Regions from separate parts of the Homo sapiens genome. Here region 2 is linked to region 1. The links come from fine-mapping of genetic effects on gene expression. Tissue or cell type: whole blood. Region 1 holds a variant in brackets; the other region holds the start of a gene. All regions are shown on one strand. Distances are between the middles of the regions.

Region 1 (8,102 bases):
CACCATGTTGGCCAGGCTGGTCTCCAACTCCTGACCTCACGTGATCCGCTTGCCTCGGCCTCCCAAATTGTTAGGATTACAGGCGTGAGCCACTGGGCCCGACCTAGGCTCTGAATTTTAGACAACAAAAAATAGTTTCTCACAAACTTTTTAACTTACTCTCACCTAAAGGCTGGAAAACCCCAGTGAAGGCTTTTAAAACTCATCAGACATAGAAAAAAAGAAGCAGCTTTAATTGTAGGATCTCACTGACACAAACATAAGGAAATTCTGAGTTATAGATACCTCACATTAAGCTTTTTCCACTGACATTGTAACTTCTGTCAACATTCAAAGAAAATTCAACCCTGGTCAAAGGTGACAGTTGACAATCCTGGAAGCTAACATCCTCTGTTTATTTGAACAAGTTTATACTCTGCACAGGGAATTGAAGTTCTTCTTGTCTGTGACTTGATCTCCCAAAGTTAAAGCACTACGCTTTAGGGTTGTGAATTCTGTTTCCAAGACTTAACTTCACAATCCACTCCCAAGGAAAAGTGCTGAGAGAAAGTAAGCATCATAAATGAAAAAAAAAAAAAAATCTGAGACTATTTTCTAATGGCCTTTGCAGAGCTCTAGACATACAATAGTTCAGTTGCCTTAAAAATTCGCCCAAATAGGCTGGGCATGGTGGCTTATGCCTGTAATCCCAGCACTTCGGAAGGCCAAGGCAGGAGGATCACCTGAGGTCAGGAGTTCGAGACCAGCCTGGCCAACATGTCAAAACCCCGTCTCTACTAAAAATACAAAAATTAGCTGGGCATGGTGGCACATGCCTGTAGTCCTAGCTACTCCGGAGGCTGGGCAGGAGAATCTCTTGAACCCAGGAGACGGAGGTTGCAGTGAGCCAAGATCGCGCCACTGCATTCCAGCCTGGGTGACAGAGCGAGGCTCTGTCTCAAGAAATAATAATAATAAATTAGCCCAAATAAGTAAAATTCTTAAATCTGTCTCAGAAATCATGACTAATGCTCTAAAAAGCTTTAATGCAACAAGAATAGGACAGAAATCCCCGCAAAATAAAGTTGTAAATAAAATGAGTGGGATTGTTGAGTTCTCAGTACAGACGTGCATGTCAACACAAACCCACTACATTGGCACAAATGATCCCTTTGTTTGTAAACAGAGGCCAAGGAGACAGCTTATAGCTCTTCTTCTATGATGTACACGGTAATGCTAGGGGAAGAAGAATGAAAGACAACTTATAATAAAAATTAAGACTTTCTCTTCTTTAATATAATTTCCACCAGAAGTATATACTTTAATTGGAAAAATATTTATCACCATCTTCATCAACATTTAAAAAAATCCTAAACATATAAAAATATTTTCTATTCAAAAACCAACGAGACTCCATTTGGGAACACAAAGAAATACAAGCCTCAAAGAAACAAAATGTCTTATAACAAAGTGGCAGTGGCCAGCTCGCTTTTGCTGTACACTAGTTAGGGATGCAGTCTCTGGAATCAGCCCCGCCAAGAACAGTAATGTGACCTTGGACAAATTACTTAACTTCTCTGTGGCCATTTCTTCATCTTCCATCTGGGAATAATACCCACTCCTCTGAGAATCACGAGTTAACACAAGGCCAGAGCTGAAAACAATGTCTGCCCAGCACACTGTCAGTGAACGGTAAGCATTAGGTAATGTTTTTATTATCTTCACACTTGAAGGCGTTGGAACATTTTCTCAAACTCTGGGTTTTGAACATAATTTGAAGGACTTGTTAATTGTCTGCTCACCTCTCGAAAGGTGGCATCATAATGATTAGATACATAATCAGAATATCTTCCCAGGTGAGCCATGGTAAGCAGAGCTCTAGCCCAGAATGATGAATAGTTATTTTTAATACAAATCATGGATGTGGCTGTTACTGGCAACTTCGGCCTGATTTCCCATATGCAAAGAAATCCCCTACCAGGGGAAAACAAGCAATGTTAGAAACCCGTTGGGTTTGTCCTGTTATCATTACAGGGTAAAGCCAAATTCACATTTAGTAGCCTGATGGGCATTAAAAATATTAGTCACCAAATTAATCCCAACAAATAACAATAATTGATTGGCTCATTGATGTATTTCCCCTTGTCTTCCCCAACCTTTCTCTAACTAGTCAGAAAGGAAAGTTTTCATATTTTCTGAGAATCTCATTACTGCTCTCAAACCATGCTCTATATCTTAGTATAATTTAAAAAATGAGTCAGCACAAGCACCTCAGAAAACTAGCATAGAATATGAAGCTACTTCTCTTCATATTAGAAAAGTACAAAAATTTTTAAAAGGTTATTCAGGGTACCAAAGGTAATAGAAGGATACATGAAGAGTGAATGTTGCAGTAGATTTTGCAAGCTAGCTTCCAAAAGTAGGTAGAAAAAGATAAATGTTCTTCATCAATCAATCAATACAGGTATTCATCATCTCAGTGGTGTCATCCATGTGAAAATGGACATAGTTATTAAGAATAAACCTAAAGAAGAAACCATCTTGTATGTGACAAATTATAACTTCTCCTTTCTTGAATATTGGGGCAGCAGGGGAATAGGAAGTCAAGATACTCCAAGTATTAACTTCATTTGCAAATTGAATTGTACATAATTGTGCACCATGCTAATGCAATACTGCTTTTAGTAATGGGATCCAAATGAAAATTTAGAAGAGGTAAACTCCCCCTAAACTGCAAACACATCTGAATGTCAATTCAATTAGGAGTCTATTTAGTTATTACACTTCTTAGCATAAAGCGAGTTAAAGGCCAGGAAAAGAACACTTGCTTTAATCACTGAAACAATCTACACATATTTCTCAAGGCTCCACTTAACTCATCCTGCAACATTTATATTAAAAGTGACCTATCACTTAAGTGATCCAGGAGAGTAAAGGAAGAGTTTTAAGGCTGAAGGTGATTCCTCCTGAGCTCTAATACCATACCCTGAATTTCACCTTGTTCTTAACTCTTTTCCATGACACTGTGTATGGCTTTTAAGCGAGTCCAGAAAAACGGCTATCATTACTACTTAATATAAACCATGGGGTTCTGTATCATGTAAACCCAGAGCAACTCCTCTTTGAAGCACCGACATTCAAGGCTCTACATAACATGTTTCAACTCTATCTTAGTGCTATACATTTTCCAAGTACCTGCGAGGAAACAGATAGCAGCACCTCCATTTTTCTGTAAATTGTGCTTTTGTTGCTGTTCTAAGACTCCTTCCAAGGCTGTTAAACTTTGAAGAGAGTTGGGAAAAGACAAGAACATCTTGCCTTCCCGATTGGGTATTCAGGCTTCACTCAGTAAAGCTGTCATGAAGTAGCGCAAAGGGTCAGAGACAAACCACATGGCATCTGATGTTTGTCTGTATAAGTTTAAAATAAAAATGTGACACTACAAGAAGGTTAACATGTGGACCTAATTTTGAAAATACAAACAGGAAGCACCCCCACCCCAATATTACCATTTAAAAAAAAAGGAAACCAAACCTCAAAGATACCTTCCAAGGAAGTGATGGGTGTGACCCAAACTAACAAAAGTAATAAAACGTCACTTCAACTCTGAAACCATCAAAAGTGAGGGTCTCATTCAACCAACTAAAAATCTAACACCTGTAAATTGCTCTTCTCTTTTGATTAGTAAAAACAGCATAGATTTAGATGTGCAAAATCTTCTCCAAACTGACATAGGCTTTTCAGTAGCAGAGGATCATCATTAATAAAACACCCAATGTCAAGATTTTACTTCAAATAAGGCCACTATAATTAACAGTGAATACAATTTTAAAAAGTATTTATCACTCTGATGCTTAGAACTTAAATTTAAGTACAAAAACTGTCTGATCAATGGAAACTAGATTGTTAAGTTTGACTTTCTTATTCCCAGAAATAAGCATAAAACTGTTGTGTTTCCAACACTGCAGGAGAAAAAAAAAAACTTCTGATTTTAGAAGAGTTCTATTCACAAAGCTCAGAATTAAAAACATTTTCTTCCTTTAAATACCACACATTTGAGGACAGCGATAGTGCAGAGCTAACTTTGAAGCATTATTTTTATTAAGTTGCACAGTTAAAGTATTTTGATACTTTGATATTTTATAGTATCAAAATAAAAGGATATTCTTCTCAAGAGTCCAGTAACCTGGAATTGCCAGA[T/G]AGCTTTTTAAACGAATAAGTTTCAAATTATCAGAAAAATCATACAAACTAGGGTTATTTTGCTTCCTTTTGTAGGAATAATGCAGTAATCTGCACTCTTAACAGAAAGGGAAAAAATGTGTCACAGATAGAATGTCCAGAAATCTGTGAATAACTTTATGAGATACAGACATTTTTGTAGGGCACGAAAATAGTTAGGCTTCCTTCGATTCCACCTGTAACCTGCATCTAATCTTGAGCATGTTATTTACCTATCTATAACGTCTTCCTTTTACAATAAGACTACCTGTGTCACCTACCTACATAACAACAAGCCAAATAAACCACAACAAATGGATTCATAATATATAAGCCTAACAAAAATTACAGACAATTTGAATACTAACAATACTATGATTTGAAAAAACTCGACTTAAGTATCAAAAAGTAATAAATGGCAACTTTAGTCTTGATGTGGCTTTTACATATGTAAATGACATAAAAACAATCAAGAGAGGAAGAAAATGGAGATGAGATGAAAAGTCAGAGCAGGATAGGAAGTGTTGACCAAAATATTTATGTTGTAACACTCCAAACGATGATAGCACATTTTTCTCCTACAATCATACATACTATGAAGTACACACCTTAAATTTCTGAACACAATCCATATTAATATCCCGTGGGCAAAAAATACAAGCACCGAAAAGGTGAGAACTGATGAGAAGGTGGGATAGTTTACCTAGTTGGGTATATAGCAAAGATTATTTTGTGCAGAGTTTAGCTTCAAGTTATGCAATAACCAAACTACTGGTGATAGAAATCAACTTTTTTTTTCTGATGGTTTGCTTTACAAAAAAAAAAAAAAAAAAAAAAAAAACCTCTCCATTCCTTCCCTGTGTCTCAATCTGGAGCTTGAAATTTCATCTTCCAGAGGCTACAGTAGCAAACAAGTCATCTCCTAGATAACGCGCTTACCTGACCCAAGGTGTGGACTTGTTTGAATTAAACGTAACAGATACCACAAATTGTCACATAGGAAGTTTTTCTTAAAATCAGCAGCCCCTTCTCTTATTTAGCCATGTCCATTCTAACAACTGTGATCTTCCATGAGATGGAAACTGGTACCCAAATGAATAAACAAAACAACCCAAAGCCTTAAAATAAAATCAATCAATAAGATTCTCCCCATTTGAAGTGATCAGAACCACTCCAATATTTACAGTGTTACAAAATGAAATTTTAAAACATGAAAGGCACACTCAATAAAATACATCCTCACCTAGGAACTCACAGGCAATGAACATAACGCAATATAACATAAGCAAATGGACAACAATAGAATGTTGGGGAGAGAGGCACAGTTCTATTACCTTAATTGAAAGATAACAAAATTATTTGAAATAATGTAGACCCAACAGCTGAAAGCTTATTATGGCCCAGGCGGCTATCCAACAGCTTTGGAAACCTAAGATCCAAGCAGACCATAAACACCACTTGAAGACTGAAAAAAATGACATAAGCCCAAGTATGATATTCAGTGTCACGCTGGCCCTTTCAAAGGGCATTCCCTGAGGACACTGCAGAGAAAATGTATGGAATTGTATCTAGGCAAAGATCTGTATACTGCACGATGCTTTGGGAAGAGCACGAATCTCAGAGTCCTTGAAGTTTCAATCCCTGGATACTCAACAAACAGCCGTGTCACCTGAGCAGGCCACTTACTCCACCTATCTGGGCCTCAGTTTCCTCATTTGTACAATAAAAGAATGGCATCATCGCTGGGTTCCTTTCCAGCTCTAACATTCTTTGACCCACTTTTGGCACTATTTATTTGATACGAGGTATGGCGGGATCACAGGGACCAAGAAGAAAAGAACTGACTCTGGCTCTTTGGCAAAGAGAGAATCGGTATCTCTTTTAGTCTTTAAAATTCTTGTGCTTTTCATTAATCCCGTCTTTCTAAAAGCTGACACTTGGTTTTCTTCTTTGGCTTTTCCATCACTGCTGGCTACAAGTGTTTGCAACCGCCTCTTGCTCCGTGTGAGTTCTTTCCTCTTTGTTCACCCCGACCATCTTGCCAGATTCCTTTAGCCTCAGACCAGCTTTTGTGATACAACTCCCCTTCCGACTCTCCATATCTACCCCCCGACACCAGGAGCACTTTTAACCCTTTATCCCTGACTAGAAAGAAAAAGCACACTGCATCCCACGGCCACACGCACGAGCCCAGGCCTGGCGGGTCCTGATGTGGGATCCCGCCCCCCAGAGTCTTATCGAAACGTTCGTATTTGTTGTCTTGATTCCTTATAAGGCCCTGTTTCTTGAAGCTTTGCTAATACCCCCCACCGCACCAGGCACCCCCGCAGGCTCATCCCATCCCCGGAGTCCCGGGAACCTCTTTTGAAAGAAAGAAGTTAAAGCAAGGAAGACGGCTGGGGATATTCGGAATTGCAACGTGAAGGTGTGAGGCGGCTGACAGCAGCCCCCTGAGCTCCTATGGGGTCGGCGCGGGGTCCCCACACACCCACTCAGCACACGCGCACGCAGCCTTTAAAGCGCACGCCCCCCGCGGCGCCGCGGCGTTCGCAAGTCCCCCTCGCGCACCCCGCATTGCCCTCAGCCTCCCCGGCAGCCAACCCGGACCCCCTCTCCCCGCGCGCGCCCCTCGCCCAGCGCGCAACCACCGCGGCCCGGGAGTGATGGCGGCGGCGCGGCCCTGACGGGCGGCTGAGCGGCTGGAGCGCGGGCCCCGCCCGGGCTGGCTCCCCGGCCTGGCTCCCCCGGCCCCGGGCCCAGGGCTCGCCCCGCAGCTCCTACCTCGCTCGGCCCCTCGGGCGCCCGCGGCTGCTCCGGCCCAGCTGTCTGGCTTGCCCGCCCGCCCGCTCGCTCCCTCCCTCGGCCGGGCCGCCGCGCGGAGTTGCCTGCGCTGGGTCCCCGCCCGGGGTGACGGCTCCGGCCGCCGACTCTCCTCCCGCCGGGGCCCGCGGGGGCGCGCGCGCCGCTCACGCGCGGAGGCCCAGGGACGCGCGCCGCTGGCAACCCGGAGCGCGCCCCGCTTCCTGGTTCCGCCCGGCGCGCGCTCGCTAGCCCGCTGTCCCTCGCGCCCCCTCCGCGACCGCCCTTGAAGGACCCGGACCCCCTCGGCACACCCGAGGTGGCGGCGCGCTCGGCGGTGCCGGTGCCGGCGCCGCGCGCACCCCCTTTCTGCGGCGGTGGGGTGTCTTCCCGGCTCGGCTCCCTAGCCGACGCCGCACCGCAAGCACATGCTGCTTTGTTTGGGTTGGGTCGACCACCACTAGCAGGGCTAGGGCGCACTGTCGTGGTCGTTTTGGTTGGCCCCCTCCGCGGCCCGCCCACCTCTCTCCCTGGGAGCCCAGGCCCGCGTTCCGGGTCCTCTCCCGCCGAGGCCGAGGTCAGAAGTCCACAGGGGCCCCGATCAATAATTATCCTGGGTTTGCCCCCGGGAGGGCGTCTCAGCCAGGGCTCCTGCCGCCTGCATGGGCACGGCAGGAATTCACATTCGCCCAGGCCGAATTCACCTGTCCGAGTTCCAGGGTGAACCTACGGGGGACGGGGCGCCTGGGGCCGGTTCCCTTCCTGGGAAAATCTGGCTGGCTCCCACCAGTCAGAGCTGCGGGAGGGACTGCTCTCTCTAGAGAAGAAAGAATAAACAGGGTCATCTGTAGGATCCAGGGGAAGGGGGTCCCCCAGATCCTTTCCACGTGCTGAGGAGGGGGTTGCGGTTGTGGGAAGCCAGGCTGAGTCACCCACTCTCCTTTCCTCTGCTACGTCTATCTCCCGGAGCTGGCCAGCGGTTTCCCTGGCAACCCTCCAAGGGCTAGCACTAAAGCAAGACATAGGAAAGCTCCAGAAGCCAAGCTGCAGGGGCCAAAAGAGAGAGAAGGACCCCTCCCGCCCCCACTCAGACACACAGAGCTCCC
Region 2 (8,102 bases), 80 kb before region 1:
CACGGGCAGGCACTGCTGGCATCTGCTAACCCCGGAGGCCCATACTTCAGAACCGGTCAGCTGGGCCAAGGCCTCTCTAAGGCCCAGCGGCTCTCATGGGCAAATGTCAGGTGACACAGAGTCAGAGACCCTGGCCAAGGACTCCCCATCCGGAGAGGTCCCAGAGGGAGGGGCGAGGTGGCCTCTGGGGGGAGCTGGGCGGTGGGGCAGGACTTGACTCAGGACACCACCCTCTCCTGCAGACACTGGGCCAGGTGCCTGTGCCGAAGGACCCGGGGCATCGCAGGGGGGAAGGGGGAGGAGGGGCAGGCAGCGAGGGCTGCCCGGAGTGCTCGGAAGGCTCCCTGCCCCACCAGGTGGACTCTGGCAGGGCCCACGCTGCCCCAGAACCGCAGGGACTTGTAGCGGGGAGAGGCTTCCTGAAGGCAGTGGTCCAGCTGGGAACAGAACAGCCTGAGTGAGCTGGTGTGTGACTGTGAGTGTGCACACGAGGCGTGTGTGGCTGTGCCCAGGCTACATGTGTTTAGAAGTTTTGTGTGGACAGGTGTGTGTCTGTGGGACTTAGCCCTCCCCTCCCAGAGCCCCAGGGAGCTTCTCCTCCGCCACCCCTCTCCTTCCCATCAGCCCTGATCTCCATGGCACCCTGGGAGTGTGCAGAGTGAAGGGGTCTACAGTCAGACCCTGTCCTCGTCTCCTTTACCTTGTCTCGATTTTCCTCTGACAGATTCCTCAGCCCCCTCAGCGCCACAAACACCTCGTAGTGGGGAGCAGAGCCCGCAGAGGAATCTGTGAATAGACCCCATGTGCACACATACTTCCGGTGAATGGGCAGCTGCCAAGTCTAGTGTCCTCTGCCCTATCTGTTCTTCCCCACTCTGAGATTCATAGGGAAAAAAGAGTTTCTTGGTGGGGAGTGGGGTAAATGGAGAGGAACCTAGAGCTTGATCCTAAATAGGAGACAGATCAGGAAAGAAAATGGGTAGAGACTGCAGCAGGATGGATGAGAGTTAGATGCAGAGAAGGACTTTTGTAGGAGTAGTAAAGGAGGCTTATCTCTTTCCTAGCAGTCCCCTGGCAGGGGAGGTAGGAGTTGAAGGGTAGCTCAAGGATGGTAGGCAGGAGCCGGTGGGGAGGCTCACCCAGAATGCTGCTCTCCACACAGCCATGGTCCAGCAGCTTGGCCCCCGCCCACTGCCCCACTGCCCGGCCCAGGGCCTCAGAGAACAGGTCTTCACCAATATCTTCCCCTCGCACACTCAGGGTCTGGTCCAGCCTGAAGAGGAGGAAGGGAGAGGCAGTGGAGCCCAGGACACAAGGATGGCCCTTCAGCTCCCCGGGGTCACCTACCTGCAGATGAACCTGACGACTGGACACTGATTGTAGGCACCAACCACTCGCACCACATCACCCAGGCGGCACCTGATGGGGTGCAAGTGGGAGTGAGGTCGGGCCCAAGGTCTTCTGAGCTCATGCCCCAGGCCCCCAGCACGGTCCCATAGGGCCCCAGGTAGCAGGGGCTGTGCAGCTGATCACCTGGTGAGGCTGGCGCGGTCCGTCAGCACCAGCTCATACTCCTTGCCCTGCTGGGCCTCGGCCAAAAGGAGGGTGGAGGCAGCTTCCTCCTGGGTGCCTTCCTTGACTGGGAGCAGCTCGATAAAGGGGGCCCCAGGGGGCAGAAGGTAGAGCCCATGGGGCTGCTCTGGCTGTAGGTTTAGGCCCAGCACCCCTGTGAAAGCAAAGCAGCCTCCTCAGCGTCTGCTGGTGCCATCGCTTTCTGCCAGGCAATAGCCCCTCCTGGATCCCAGGCCTGATCCTCTGAGCACCTGATCCTCCTGCTGCCCTTCCACCACATCCTTCCTGGCTCCCCCAGCCTCAGCGGGCTGCCTCTTAGGCCCTCACTGGAAAGAGGCAGAGTGCTGTGGTCCTGGAGGGGGCAGACTTGGGAGTGAATCCTGGTGCCACATGAATTTGTGCAAGACTCTTTTTTTTTTTGAGACAGAGTCTCGCTCTGTCACCTAGGCTGGAGTGCAGTGGTGCGATCTCGGCTCAGTGATTCAGTGATTCCTGGGTTCAAGTGATTCTCCTGCCTGAGCCTCCTGAGTAGCTGAGATTACAGGCGCCTGCCACCACACCTGGCTAATTTTTGTATTTTTAGTAGAGACAGGGTTTCACCACATTGGCCAGGCTGGTCTTAAACTCCTAACTTCAGGTGATCCACCCACCTCAGCCTCTCCCAAAGTGCTGGGATTACACCCGTGAGCCACTGCCCCGGCCTTTTTTTTTTTTTTTTTTTTTTGAGACAGGGTCTTGCTCTGTCACCCAGGCTGGAGTGCAATGGCGCGATCTCAGCTCACTATAATTTCTGCCTCCAAGGTTTAAGCAATCCTCCCGCCTCAGCCTCCCAGGTAGCTGGGATTATAGGCGTGCACCACCATACTCCGCTAGTTTTTGTATTTTTAGTAGAGATGGGGTTTCGCCATGTTGGCCAGGCTGGTCTGGAACTCCTGACCTCAACGATCCATCCACCTTGGCCTCCCAAAGTGCTGGGATTACAGGCGTGAGCCACTGCACCCAGCTACAAGACTCTTAACCTAGAGAGCCTGAATTTCTTCACTTGTAAAAGGAGGCTGCTGGCCCTAGCATGCAGCTTGTTGGGGAGGATTAAATGAGATGATTATGTAGGGCCCAATGCATGGCTGCTTGTCATGTGACCACTGACCGTTGCCCCCACCTCACTGCCCTTGAGTCCCACTGACCTCCCGAGGCAGCATAAGCAGGAGAGAAGAAGGCTAGTCCTTGGCACCACAAGGCCCCGAGGGCAGCCACAGCCTCGGCCTGGCCTCCTGCATCCAGAGTCACCACCACCTGCAGCTTTGGCCAGAGCCGAAGGGCCAGTCCCCGTGGCCCCTGCTCTAGGGCCTCCCGGAGCTCAGCTGCCCGTTCACGGAGAGGCGCTCCAGGGTTCCCGGCAGCTATCGCCCCAGCTAGCTCTTCACCATCAGTCTCCAGGCCCAAGAAAACATCCAGAAGTTCGACAGCCGTCCCAGCCTCCAGTGCCCTCAGCCCTGGGGACCTCAGTGCGTCCAGCAGCAGGGCCCTAGGGTCCTTGGTTCCAGGGGTGCCCACCTGGCCCAGGGTATTCCCAGGCCAAGGCAGGGGTCGGGGCCAAGGGGATGTAAGCGTCACACGGGCAGTGCGTCCCTGAGCCAGCACTTCTGGGTAGGCCTTGTTTAGGGCTGCCAGACCCAGCAAGGTGGCCTGGAGGAGGAAAGAGAGAATGTTGGTCTGGTGTCAGAGCCAGACCCAGAGCCCCCATTTGGGGGTTCTTTGCCCACCATGACTGGAGGGTTTGGCTGCAAGTCAGAGGTCTCTGGTGGGACTGGGCTGTGGCCAGGACTGGGCTCTGGCCATCCTAGATTACCTGCAGAGAGGCCTCCCCAAGGTCCTGGTTTGAGGTCGGGGGCAGTGGCTGCTCTCCACTGTCTTCCTGCTGGGTCTGGCTGGCCTTGGTCAGAGGGAGATGATTCCGGAAGGTGCTTATGTCTATAGCCCCAATGACAACAGAAACGCCTCAGGAAGCCAGTTTCCCAAGAGTTTCAGGCAAGACTGGTGAGACCCTTGAGGGAGGAACCGAGAATAGGCCTGGGGTAGAGAGGATGTAAGGACCCAGCATGGGAAATTCATCTTGGACAAGAAAGCCAGTCCTGGGTCTCTGGGTCAGGCCACTCCGTTGGCAGTGGAGGAGGTAAGGGGGCCATCAGGCTCTGGAATCTGACGGTCCTGTGGGGTTTCTTTCTCTTTGGGTCACCTCCCCAGACCCTGGGAAACACACCTGTGCTCCTTCTGAGGGAACAGTGGGGGCGCTGGGCTCCCTGTAGACACCACCTCAGGGCCTGCTGCTGGCTCTGGTGCACATGGAGCGTGCTCTGCTCCAGCCTCCGCCGCTGCCAGGTGGCTGCCCAGACCAGGGCCCCCCATGCCACTCGGTGCTGGAGGCCAGCAAGCCAGGACAGCCTGGCATCCTGGGACCGCTGCTGCCTGAGCAGGGCCAATGTTGGCAGCAGCAGCAGCAGCAGCAGCAGTGGCCACAGCAGCATCTCCAAGCAGCTCCTGGGAAGAGGAAGGAACCGAGATATGGGGGCATGCAGCAATTATCCATTTCTCCTCCCACGCTCTACTGCATACAGGAAAACCGAGGAAAAATGAAATTGGGAAGAAGGCAGGACCCTGTGGGGCAGGTGATGCAAAGGAGAGACTATCAAAGCTTTGGAGTCCCACTGACCTGAGTGCAGATCCTGCCTCTGCCGCTTGTTAGCTGTAGGGCCCTGAGCAATTTAGTGGGCTGCACTGAGCTCTGTTTCCTGATCTGCAAAATGGGAATAAGAATAAGAATGCCTCTTTCAGAAGGTAGGGGTGGGCCGGGTGAGGTGGCTATCATCTGTAATCCCAGCACTTTGGGAGGCTGAGGCAGGAGAATCACTTGAGCCCAGGAGTTTGCAACCGGCCTGAGCAACATAGGGAGACTCCATCTCTACAAAAAATTGAAAAACTAGCCCAGCGTGGTGTCACACCCATAGTCGCAGCTACTTGGGAGGCTGAGATGGGAGGATCCCTTGAGCCCAGGATGTCAAGGCTACAGTGAGCCAAGATCGTGCCACTGCACCCCAGCTTGGGCAACAGAGTGAGACCCTGTCAAAAAAAAAAAGAAAAGAAAAAAAAGGGAGAAAAGAAGGAAGAGGAAGGGAAGGTACAGGAAGGGTTTCGGACAGGGTCGGTCGGGCACACAGCAGCTGCGTAACGATATCTCTTGCCCACTCCCGAGTGGCTTTGCTTTCTCTCGGGATCCACCCTGTCCCAGCTCCTTGTCCCTCCTGAGCCCCAGGCTGTGGGGTCCATGCCCACATGCACCTGTCACAGCCCACTTCTGCCTACTCCTGGCACGTGACGGAGACCCCTGGGTGACTCTGGGTCTCAGCACACATCCGGCCAGAAAGAAGGAGCGATGGCTTTAAAAGGCTGGGCCCCAACTGGGAAATCCGGCCACCAGGCCTGAGGGAGGAGCTGAAGGAGGGGGGTGCTCTTAAAGGGGCAGGTCGCCTACAGGACTTCATGTCGGGTGCTAGCCCAGGCTGGCAGTTGGGGCAGTTAGGACCAGACTAGCATGGTCCTCAAACTTGCGCAGGTGAAGGAACAGAAAGGTGTGTGTGGGAAAGAACGCCATTAAGCCACTTGAGCTGGGAGAGGGGCAAGCTTAAGAACTCTTAAAACCCCAACTCAGCTGGGCGCGGTGGCTCACGCCTGTATTCCCAACACTTTGGGAGGCTGAGGCGGGTGGATCATCTGAGGTCAGGAGTTTGACACCAGCCTGACCAACATGGTGAAACCCCATCTCTACTAAAAATACAAAATTAGCCAGATGTGGTGGCACATGCCTGTAATCCCAGCTACTTGGGAGGCTGAGGCAGAAGAATCACTTGAACTTGGGAGGCGGAGGTTGCAGTGAGCTGAGATTGCGCCATTGTACTCCAGCCTGGGCAATGAGCGAAACTCCGTCTCAAAAACAAACAAAACAAAAACAACAACAAAAAAAACCCCATCCTCTCCCTCAAGGTAGTTGAGAAAGAAAACAATTTTATTATTGAATAAGCATTCAACCACAATGTGATGTACATGACAGGTGATCTGCTAAGAGCTTGCAAAGAAGGGAGGAAATCTTACTTTTTTGTATAGCCAAGCGCATACAACCCATTACATACACGTTTTCAAGATAAACAATAACGAGTCCTCAAGTAAGAGGACTTGTCACATATAGTTTATCTTTTTTTTTTTTTTTTTTTTTTGAGACACAGTCTTGCTCTGTTGCCCAGGCTGGAGTGCAGTGGCACAATCTCAGCTCACTGCAACCTCCACTTCCCAGGTTCAAGCGATTCTGCTGCCCCAGCCTCCCAAGCAGCTGGGATTACAGGTGTGTGCCACCACGCCCAGCTAATTTTTGTATTTTCAGTAGAGATGGGGTTTCACCATGTTGGCCAGGCTGGTCTCAAACTCTTGACCTCAAGTGATCTACCCTCCTTGGCCTCCCAAAGTGCTGGGATTACAGGTGTGAGCCACCACACCCAGCCAGTCACATAGTTTATCTTAACTTTACATGGTTATTAGGTGAACATCTGTGTTAGCTTGCTGGCTTTATCCCAAGGAAAATTACAAACTTCTTTTTTTTTGTTTTTTTGGCAGAGTTCTATTCTTGTTGCCCAGGCTGGAGTGCAATGGCACGATCTTAGCTCACTGCAACCTCCGCCTCCCAGATTCAAGCAATTCTCCTGCCTCAGCCTCCCGAGTAGCTGGGATTACAGGCACGCATCACCACACCCAGCTAATTTTTTGTATTTTTAGTAGAGACGGGGTTTCACCATGTCACCATGTTGGCCAGGCTGGTCTCAAACTCCTGACCTCAAGTGATCCACCTGCCTCGGCCTCCCAAAGTGCTGGGATTACAGGCCTGAGCCACTGCACCCAGCCAGTCACATATAGTTTATCTTAACTTTACCTGGTTACTGGGTGACCATCTGTGTTAGCCTGTTGCCTTTATCCCAAGGAAAATTACAAACTTCTCTTTTTTTGTTTTTTGTTTTTGAGACAGGGTCTTGATCTATTGCCCAGGCTGGAGTGCAGTGGTGCGATCATAGCTCACTGCAACCTCAACCTCCTGGGCTCAAGAGATCCTCCTGTCTCAGCCTCCCAAGGGACTGGAACTACAGGTACGCACCACTACGCTCAACTAATTTTATTTTTTGTAGAGACGAGAGAGCTCCCTATGTTGCCCAGGCTGGTGTGTTCTTGACCTAGGCTCTCAAAACACTAAAACCACTCCCTTTCTCCCCTTACTTGCCTCTGGATACCTTTGAGAAGAGAGCTACTACTTGCTGAGCACCTCTCTTCCCTTCACAGCTGAGCTTCTTTCAACAGGTCTGTTCTCACTCTGGCTAACTCACCTCACTTTCACGTTTTTTCTCGCTGAGATCTTGCATTTGCTTTTATTATTTATTTAAAGACAGGGTCTTGCTCTGTTGTCCAGGCTGGAGTTCAGTGGCCTGGTCACAGCTCATTGCAACCTTGAACTCCGGGGATCAAGCAATCCTCCTACCCCAGCCTCTGAGTGGCTAGGACTACAGGCATGTGCCACCACACCCAGCTAATTAAAAACATTTTTTTTTTTTTTTTGTAGAGACAGGGGGTCTTACTATGTTGCCCAGACTGGTCTGGAACTCCCGGTCTCAGCGATCCTCCTACCTTGGCCTTCCAAAGTGCTGGAATTACAGGTGTAAGCCACTAGACCTGGCCCAGTAACAGCTTTATTAGATATAATTCACACACCATACAAATCACCCATTTAGTGTACAATTCAAGATCTAGTATATCCAGAGATATGTGCAACCAACACCACAGATAATAACATTTTCCTTACCTCAAAAACAAACCCTGCAGAGTCTCTCTGAGCCTACTGTGCCTCAGGAGACTGCCCAATTCGTTAAATAAAATAAAATAAAATAAAATAAAATAAAATAAAATAAAATAAAATAAAAAACCCCAAACTCAGGCTGGGCGTGGTGGCTCACACCTATAATCCCAGCACTTTGGGAGGCCAAGGCAGGTGGATCACCTGAAGTCAGGAGTTCAAGACCAGCCTGGCCAACATGGCAAAACACTGTCTCTACTAAAAATACAAAAATTAGCAGGGTCTGGTGGCCGGCGCCTATAATCCCAGCTACTTGGGAGGCTGAGGTGGGAGAATCGCTTGAAACTGGGAGGCAGTGGTTGTAGTGAGCCGAGATGGCGCCACTGCACTCCAGTCTGGGTGACAGAGCGAGACTCTGTCTCAAGAAAAACAAACAAAAAAAAAAACAAAACAAAAAAACCCCCAAACCCTGTATCCTTTCACTATTACCTCCAAACTCCTTCCCAGCCTCTAGGCAACCTCAAATTTACTTTCTGTCTCCATAGATTTGCCTATCCTAGACATTTCCTATAAATGGCATCATATAATATGCGGTCTTTTGTACTTGGCTTCTTTTCTTTTTCCTCGCTCTGTCACCCAGGCTGGA

The links. PIP is the estimated chance that this variant, and not a neighbour inherited with it, causes the effect.
Region 2: GHDC starts here. The variant in region 1 is fine-mapped to the expression of GHDC in whole blood (INTERVAL, PIP 0.97).

Annotation. Positions count from the first base shown.
Region 1 is chr17:42,269,270-42,277,371 of GRCh38, forward strand. It overlaps STAT5B (signal transducer and activator of transcription 5B), which reads right to left and starts at 7,122. Exons shown (of 19, transcript NM_012448.4): 1 at 6,979-7,122. RefSeq lists a silencer at 6,755-7,364. The variant T/G (reference allele first, on the strand shown) is at 4,180.
Region 2 is chr17:42,189,485-42,197,586 of GRCh38, forward strand. It overlaps GHDC (GH3 domain containing), which reads right to left and starts at 5,010. Exons shown (of 10, transcript NM_032484.5): 1 at 4,909-5,010; 2 at 4,283-4,366; 3 at 3,833-4,110; 4 at 3,422-3,543; 5 at 2,757-3,258; 6 at 1,534-1,726; 7 at 1,348-1,419; 8 at 1,140-1,273; 9 at 701-786; 10 at 1-437. The coding sequence starts at 4,097. The coding sequence ends at 219. RefSeq lists enhancers at 3,498-4,028, 4,923-5,152.